Linked DNA regions of Homo sapiens. The protein of the gene in region 1 interacts with the protein of each later gene in a biochemical or structural test. Each region holds a gene or a part of one and is shown in the gene's direction. Other genes may lie near its edges.

What was found.
Region 2: the proteins of TPR (region 1) and NUP98 form a complex in vitro, tested with the Homo sapiens proteins (one study listed by BioGRID).

The regions. Positions count from the first base shown.
Region 1 is NC_000001.11:186,333,482-186,337,304, reverse strand, and holds part of TPR (nucleoprotein TPR), read left to right. Parts: intron 1-148; coding exon 149-292; intron 293-610; coding exon 611-809; intron 810-1,761; coding exon 1,762-1,967; intron 1,968-2,175; coding exon 2,176-2,237; intron 2,238-2,771; coding exon 2,772-2,980; intron 2,981-3,823.
Region 2 is NC_000011.10:3,787,280-3,791,102, reverse strand, and holds part of NUP98 (nuclear pore complex protein Nup98-Nup96 isoform 1 precursor), read left to right. Parts: intron 1-3,823. UniProt on the Homo sapiens protein: Plays a role in the nuclear pore complex (NPC) assembly and/or maintenance. NUP98 and NUP96 are involved in the bidirectional transport across the NPC. May anchor NUP153 and TPR to the NPC.

The DNA.
Region 1 (3,823 bases):
TACAGTTGTTTCATAGAAAATTCTGTTTTGAATACCTTCAGGGATAAAATTTCTTTGCAAAGCTGTGATTATTTTCTTAGACAAACTTGCAGAAATGGAATTACTGAATATAAATATGTGAGTGTATTATTACTGTTTGTTGTCTTAGGTTATGGAGACATCGGCTCAGTCCTCTGGAGACCATCAGGAGCAGCATGTTTCAGTCCAGGAAATGCAGGAACTCAAAGAAACGCTCAACCAAGCTGAAACAAAATCAAAATCACTTGAAAGTCAAGTAGAGAATCTGCAGAAGGTATGAGTGTGAGAACAGTCTGTTCCTAATTCTTTCCTGTTATACACCTAAAGAAATATGTGTTAACTACTGACACTTTGTCTTACCATGTGGGAATGGATACATTTTATTCTTTTTACTTTGAATGGCTCATGTATGTAAGTAGTACCCAATCATCTTCAAGTGTGCATTTAGTTGGTCTGACCACCATTTTTATACTTATACTTCCATTTAATCTTTTAAAAAGCAAATTAATAAGTTATACTTTAAGTTGCTACCACATACAGTTTATATTGAAATGATTGAATTCCATGGTGAATACTTTGTTTTCCTTTAAAGACATTATCTGAAAAAGAGACAGAAGCAAGAAATCTCCAGGAACAGACTGTGCAACTTCAGTCTGAACTTTCACGACTTCGTCAGGATCTTCAAGATAGAACCACACAGGAGGAGCAGCTCCGACAACAGATAACTGAAAAGGAAGAAAAAACCAGAAAGGCTATTGTAGCAGCAAAGTCAAAAATTGCACACTTAGCTGGTAAATATCTGTTTAAAGTTTGAACTTGGTAGTGAAAGTTGATTATGTGTTGCAGGCCTAAAACTAAATGGAATAGAAATAAAAGGTATCTACTTATGAAGGGTGTTTGTGTGTGTATGTGTGCTTTAAATATTAGGAATAATTAGTTGGACACAAAGAGCAATCCTAATTTTCAAGTGATGAGGATATCCTTGATATGATGAAATTTTTCTCAATTGTTGGCTGGCAGTAGATAATGGAATACTGCTATCCTTCTGCTTTCATGGATAACAATTCTATCTTGTGACAGAGATCCTTTGAGCCCAGACCGTGCTGTCTAGAAACCTTATGTAGACTGCATAAAGATCTTTACCAGCCCAGGGATTTTTTTGTGCCTCGTTTGGTGGAGGACCCCTCTAGCTTTTCAGGGAGAGTATCATGTCAAATTTATGAAGAACCTAGTTCTTCAAGGCTCAGGGCTTTATTCAGCCTTGCCTATCAGTCTGCTGAGTAGTTAAATAAAATGTCAAATCAGTTGGATTTTGTTACAGGCATTTTTTTAAAATGATCTCTAAGACAGTGTCCTAACAACTTACTTGATTTTAAAAGTTCTTGAATTATTTTTAAACAGTGCTGTAGATTATATGAAATAAAAATTTTGCAATTCATAGTAATGAATTGCATGATACATTGAAATATAAACGGGCTTCTGTTAACTAGGATCTTTAGCTTTTTGAGATTTTAGTTAGGAAAAAGTAAATTTTTATGTTGGAGTAAGTATATTTTATATTCTAGTAATAAGTTAAAGCATGAATGTACTTAGAACTTTGCTCATTGAGATGTATGATGTATCATAACTAATGTAGATGTTATAGTAGTAGAATCTGATGTGACCATGTGCCAATTAAGTGCATAAATGCTGTTTTAAATGTTTGATTATAATATTAATATAATCGCCTGGTTACTTCTTTAGGTGTAAAAGATCAGCTAACTAAAGAAAATGAGGAGCTTAAACAAAGGAATGGAGCCTTAGATCAGCAGAAAGATGAATTGGATGTTCGCATTACTGCGCTAAAGTCCCAATATGAAGGTCGAATTAGTCGCTTGGAAAGAGAACTCAGGGAGCATCAAGAGAGACACCTTGAGCAGAGAGATGAGCCTCAAGAACCTTCTAATAAGGTGATTAGCTAATTCTGCTTAAGTAACAAATTGTTTTTCTTTGTACATTTTACTTGAAAGTGCTTGGTGATATAGGAGCCTTTGTCAGTGAATTTTGGCTAAAATTCAATATATGCGGAGAGAATTAACAATAATGACAATTTTTTTGTGGCATTTTTAGTGGACTCTTGTGGGCTAGGAACAACAATCAAGAGCTTTCTCTTTATAGGTCCCTGAACAGCAGAGACAGATCACATTGAAAACAACTCCAGCTTCTGGTGAAAGAGGAATGTGAGTTTTAGTTATTTCATAGTCTGTTATTTTTCTTTTAAAGCTCAGGGAATATCTAGTGATCTTTCTGTTTAGGAAAAAGAAATCTGTGTATTCTATTGTAAAAACATACACTAAAGAGTTGTTTTCTCTGCAGAACTGTATCATGTATTTGCCAGCTTGTTTTCACCATACTTTCAGTCCTATCAGATGAAGCTTTGTGACAGAGAAAACGTCTCTCATCTTTTAGTTTACAGTTGGTTTCTAAGTTAGGCTGCTACTGATTTTCCCCGTGATGTTACATGATGACAGATAGAAAATGCTGGGCTGAGACTTGGGTTCAGCAATTCAACAGCTAGATACATTTTACATTGTCAGGATGCACCACTCTGGAGCATTCCCTGTGTAGTTTTTAATGCTTAAATTCAAAACAGCTTTAATAAGGCTCTGAAATATTTAGTGAACAAAAAAATGGAGACCTATACTCACTGTGTTTTTAAAAGTATTTGCATAATAATTTGTTATTAATTATTCTTCCATTTTCTCCTCTATAAGTGCCAGCACATCAGACCCACCAACAGCCAATATCAAGCCAACTCCTGTTGTGTCTACTCCAAGTAAAGTGACAGCTGCAGCTATGGCTGGAAATAAGTCAACACCCAGGGCTAGTATCCGCCCAATGGTTACACCTGCAACTGTTACAAATCCCACTACTACCCCAACAGCTACAGTGATGCCCACTACACAAGTGGAATCACAGGAAGGTTAGTAAAATAATACAGATCTGATGAGACTGCTTATTTAGATTTATTATGAGAAGATGACAGTAATTTCAAAGACAAATGAAGCATCCACTACAGCTGAAGTCACGTCATTGTAAAAATGGGTGTTTAATATTTGAAGGACATACTTCTAGGACCAAAATTTTCACTTGTAATGACAAAGAATATATGAAATCCACTTTGGAAAATCATACTGAATTACTGGCTCAATCCAACATTGCTTTCTCACTGAAACTGACCATTTCATTGCTTTCTTCAATTTTTTCCCATGACACTCTTGTTATTCATTACAGCAATTACAACTTTGTATTTTATTCTGTGGTATACATGCTTTTTACTCCACTACATTGAGCTCCTCAAGGGCAAAAATCTCAGCTTCTTATTGTTTAATCCCTTTACCTAACTCCACAGTAGGTGTTCAGTAAAACTTTGCTACCTGCATATTTCCTTAGATTCTTATCTTGACAAATGTTAGAATTCAGTAAATTATTCAAGTATTTCTGTGCTGTGAAAGTAGAGAATGTTTTATTTCAGCTACATCCAATAAACTAAATATATTACTAATCAAATTTACTATCTGTTATATCAATTAAAAACTAAATGATGCTTAATGAAAAATTCTAATTTTACTTTGAGCTTAATTTCATTAATTTTATTCAACAGTAATTTAAATGAATAGATGCAAAATCAGTTACAGATATTTATTTAATTCAGGCAACATTTTATTGCATGCTACCATATCAATTACATAGGGAATATAAAAATGCATAATACATTACCTTTACCTACAATGTATTTGTCTACCAAGTGCCAAATCTGTGTGAA
Region 2 (3,823 bases), on another chromosome or scaffold:
TAACACGGTGAAAACCCGTCTCTACTAAAAATACAAAAAATTAGCTGGGCGTGGTGGCGGGCGCCTGTAATCCCAGTTACTCGGAAGGCTGACGCAGGAGAATGTCGTGAACCTGGGAGGCAGAGCTTGCAGTCAGCCGAGATTGCGTCACTTCACTCCAGCCTGGGCAACAGAGCCAGACTCTGTCTCAAAAAAAAAAAAAAATTAAAATGGTGTTCCATGAGAAAAACAACTACATTTAGCTTTCAAAAGTAATTACAGGTGGTTTGCCCCTTGATATCCTTTGTATTTCAGTAAGCAGAAGTTTTTGAGTATTTCCCAATACTGAATTAAAAAGAATTGTGCTGTAGTGTTGAGAAATAATACAACTAATAATTTTTGCTGCTTCATTAAGGACCCTTTTAAGTGAAAGTGGAATTTTTTATATTGTAAATGGGTGACAGTGAAGAATTCAGTGAGTGTTAGTTCAGCACCATTTGGGGTTGTTGCTTTGATTCATGCTGAGTTCCCAGCATTTTTGCACACCATTGATTTTGCACATCAGCACAGAGGTCAGAACAGTAAAGAAAAAGGGCAAAGTGTCTTAGTTTTATTGTGAAAATGGTTTTGATTTCATTGAACCCCTGGAAGAAGTGTTGGGGACTTTTAGGGGTCTTTGGGTCACACTTTGAGAACCACTAATCTAGAACAATATTTCACATTGGTTCATAGAGCCCTAAGCTGCTTCATAGGGCAGAGCTGGTGGGGTTCTACTGTACCTACTCCCTCTTCACTTCAGCCAGAGCAGCTTCTGCTTATGTCTGTTTTATATGTCGGGTTTCATGGCTAAAAAATATTTGAAAATCATTAGTCAAGGGGAAAAGAATTGAGCACCTGAATTAGGGCTGGTCTGTTCGTGAAGGGAACAGTTCATCCTCAGTAAATGTTACAGTCACTCATCACTTCACATCTTTAATTTTACTTCGTTTGACACAGAGCTTACTAGTATTTGCACACTCAACCTTCTTGATAGGTAAATGGGGCTGTGTGCCGTGGCTCACGCCTGTAATGCTAGCACTTTGGGAGGCTGAGGTGGGCGGATCACGAGGTCGGAAGATCGAGACCATCCTGGCCAACTTGGTGAAACCCCATGTCTACTAAAATACAAAAAATTAACCCGGTATAGTGGTGGGTGCCTGTAGTCCCATCTTCTCGAGAGGCTGAGGCAGGGAAATCGCTTGAACCCAGGAGGCAGAGGTTGCAGTGAGCTGAGATCATGCCACTGCACTGCACTCCAGCCTGGCAACAGAGCAAGACTGTCTCAAAAAAATAAATAAATAAAAAATAAGTAAATGGGCCTGGCACAGGGGCTCACCTATAATCCCTGCACTTTAGGAGGCCAAAGCAGGAAGATGGCTTGAGTCCAGGAGTTAGAGACCAGCCTGGGCAACATAGTGGCACATGCCTGTGGTCTCAGCTTTTTGGGAGGCTAAAGTGGGAGGATCAGTTGAACCCAGGAGGTCCAGGCTGCAGTGAGCCATGATCATGCCACTGCATTCCAGCCTGGGCAACAGAGTGAGACCTTGTCTCAAAACAAAAACCAAAAAAAAAAAAAAAAAAAAGAAATAGGTAAATGAATTTGTAAATTAAAAAGATGGATAGTTGGGAATAAAGACAGAGATGTGAGATAGATGGAAGAGGTTGAATGATCATAGTAATCTCAATATATTGTGTTTGTGCAGGGATGGGATTTGTTTTTGTTTGCAGTGGTGCTTTATGCTTGTGCTGAGTGATCAGTGGATGACACTTAAGCATTGAGAAATAAGAAATTATGGCATTCTAGCTAGCCATTGAACCAAAGTTTAGAGTGAGGGGACATTTATTATGCTTTTTAAATTATAAATACCTGTAAAATACCTGTTGAAAAATAAACAAAATGCTGCTTTTGAGGAGCTCTAGTTTGAGGCAGCTTTGTCCTCCTACCAGTCTTTTGGTGTAGGCTGTACAATCCCTATTGTTCAGATGTAGAAATTGAGGTCTGAGAGATTGAATATTATGACTTACAGTAGCAAGTGGCAGAGGAATTTTTTATTTTTTTAACTTTTTATTTTGAATTAACTTTAGATTTTAAGAGTCAATGATGGTAACTGACAGGTTTTTTTTTGGTTGTTTTTTTGAGATGGAGTTTCACTGTTGTTATCCAGGCTGGAGTGCAGTGGCACGATCTCGGCTCACTGCAATCTCTGCCTCCTGGGTTCAAGCGATTCTCCTGCCTCAGCCTCCCGAATAGCTGGGATGACAGGCATGCGTCACGACAACTGGCTAATTATGTATTTTTTAGTAGAGACGGGGTTTCTCCTTGCTTCTCAGGCTGGTCTTGAACTCCCGACCTCAGGTGATCCGCCCACTTTGGGCCTCCCAAAATGGTGCGATTACATGCGTGAGCCACCGTGCCCAGCCTTATACAGTGATTCTTAATAGTTAGGTATATATCCTTTCACTTTTAGAAATTTATTTATTTATTTATTTTTGGAGACAGAATTTCACTCTTGTCACCCAGGCTGTAGTGCAGTGGCGCAATCTGGGCTCACAGCAACCTCCACCTCCCAGGTTCAAGCAGTTCTCCTGCCTCAGCCTCCTGAGTAGCTGGGATTACAGGCATGTAGGCTAATTTTTGTATTAGTAGAGACAGGGGGTTTCACCATGTAGGCCAGGCTGGGCTCGAACTCCTGAGCTCAGGTGATCCACCAGCCTTGGCCTCCCAAAGTGTTGGGATTGCAGGTGTGAGCCACCGCGCCTAGCCGAGTGACAGTTTTAAATACAGATGTCTCACACCAAAGCTAATATACTCTTCACTCTAAAATGATTAGGGTTATGTTAAGGGGATGAAAAAAATGCTGCTCAGTGCTATTAGGAAGGAGCTTATGTAAGATGCTATGGACTATTTAAAATTAATTTACACCCAGTGAGCAAAGTCAAGACATTTTTTTTACCCAGAGCAGCAGACAGGTAAAACACTCAGGTGGCAGGTATAATAACAAATATATTGCATAACTAAAAGCAGCTGAGAGACACTAGTTTACGTAATCGGGGTTGGAAAGGAAGAGGGGAAGTAAAGTGTTTTATTTTTTTTGAGATGGACTCTGGCTCCGTCGCCAGGCTGGAGTGCAGTGGCCCGATCTCGGCTCACTGCAACCTCCGCCTCCTGGATTCAAGTGATTCTCCTGCCTCAGCCTCCCAAGTAGCTGGGACTAGAGGCACACACCACCATGCCCAGCTAATTTTTGTATTTTCAGTAGAGACGGGGTTTCACCATGTTGGCCAGGATGGTCTCGATCTCTTGACCTCGTGATCTGCCCGCCTCTGCTTCCCGGAGTGCTGGGATTACAGACATGAGCCACCGTGCCCGGCCTTTAAAGTGTTTTTATACTAATAAAGAGTTTAAGGGTGTGCGGCAGTCTTGTGAAAGCAGGTGAGGCTTGAGCAACAATTTTTAGGAAGAAAAGGAGATACGATTTTTAGAGAGGGTATGATGTTCTTTTTTTTTGTTTGAGACAGCGTCTTGCTCTGTTACCCAGGCTGGAATGATCTTGGCTCACTGCAACCTCTGCCTTCCGGGTTCGAGCGACTCTCCTGCCTCAGTCTCTCGAGTAGCTGGGATTACAGGCATGCGCCACCGCTTCTGGCTAATGTTTGTATTTTTATTAGAGACGGGGGTTTCACCCTATTGGCCAGTCTGGTCTCGAACTCCTGACCTTAGTTGATCTGCCCACCTTGGCCTTCCAAAGTGCCGGGATTACAGACCTTGAGCCACCGTGCCCGGCCTTAGAGAGGATATGATGTT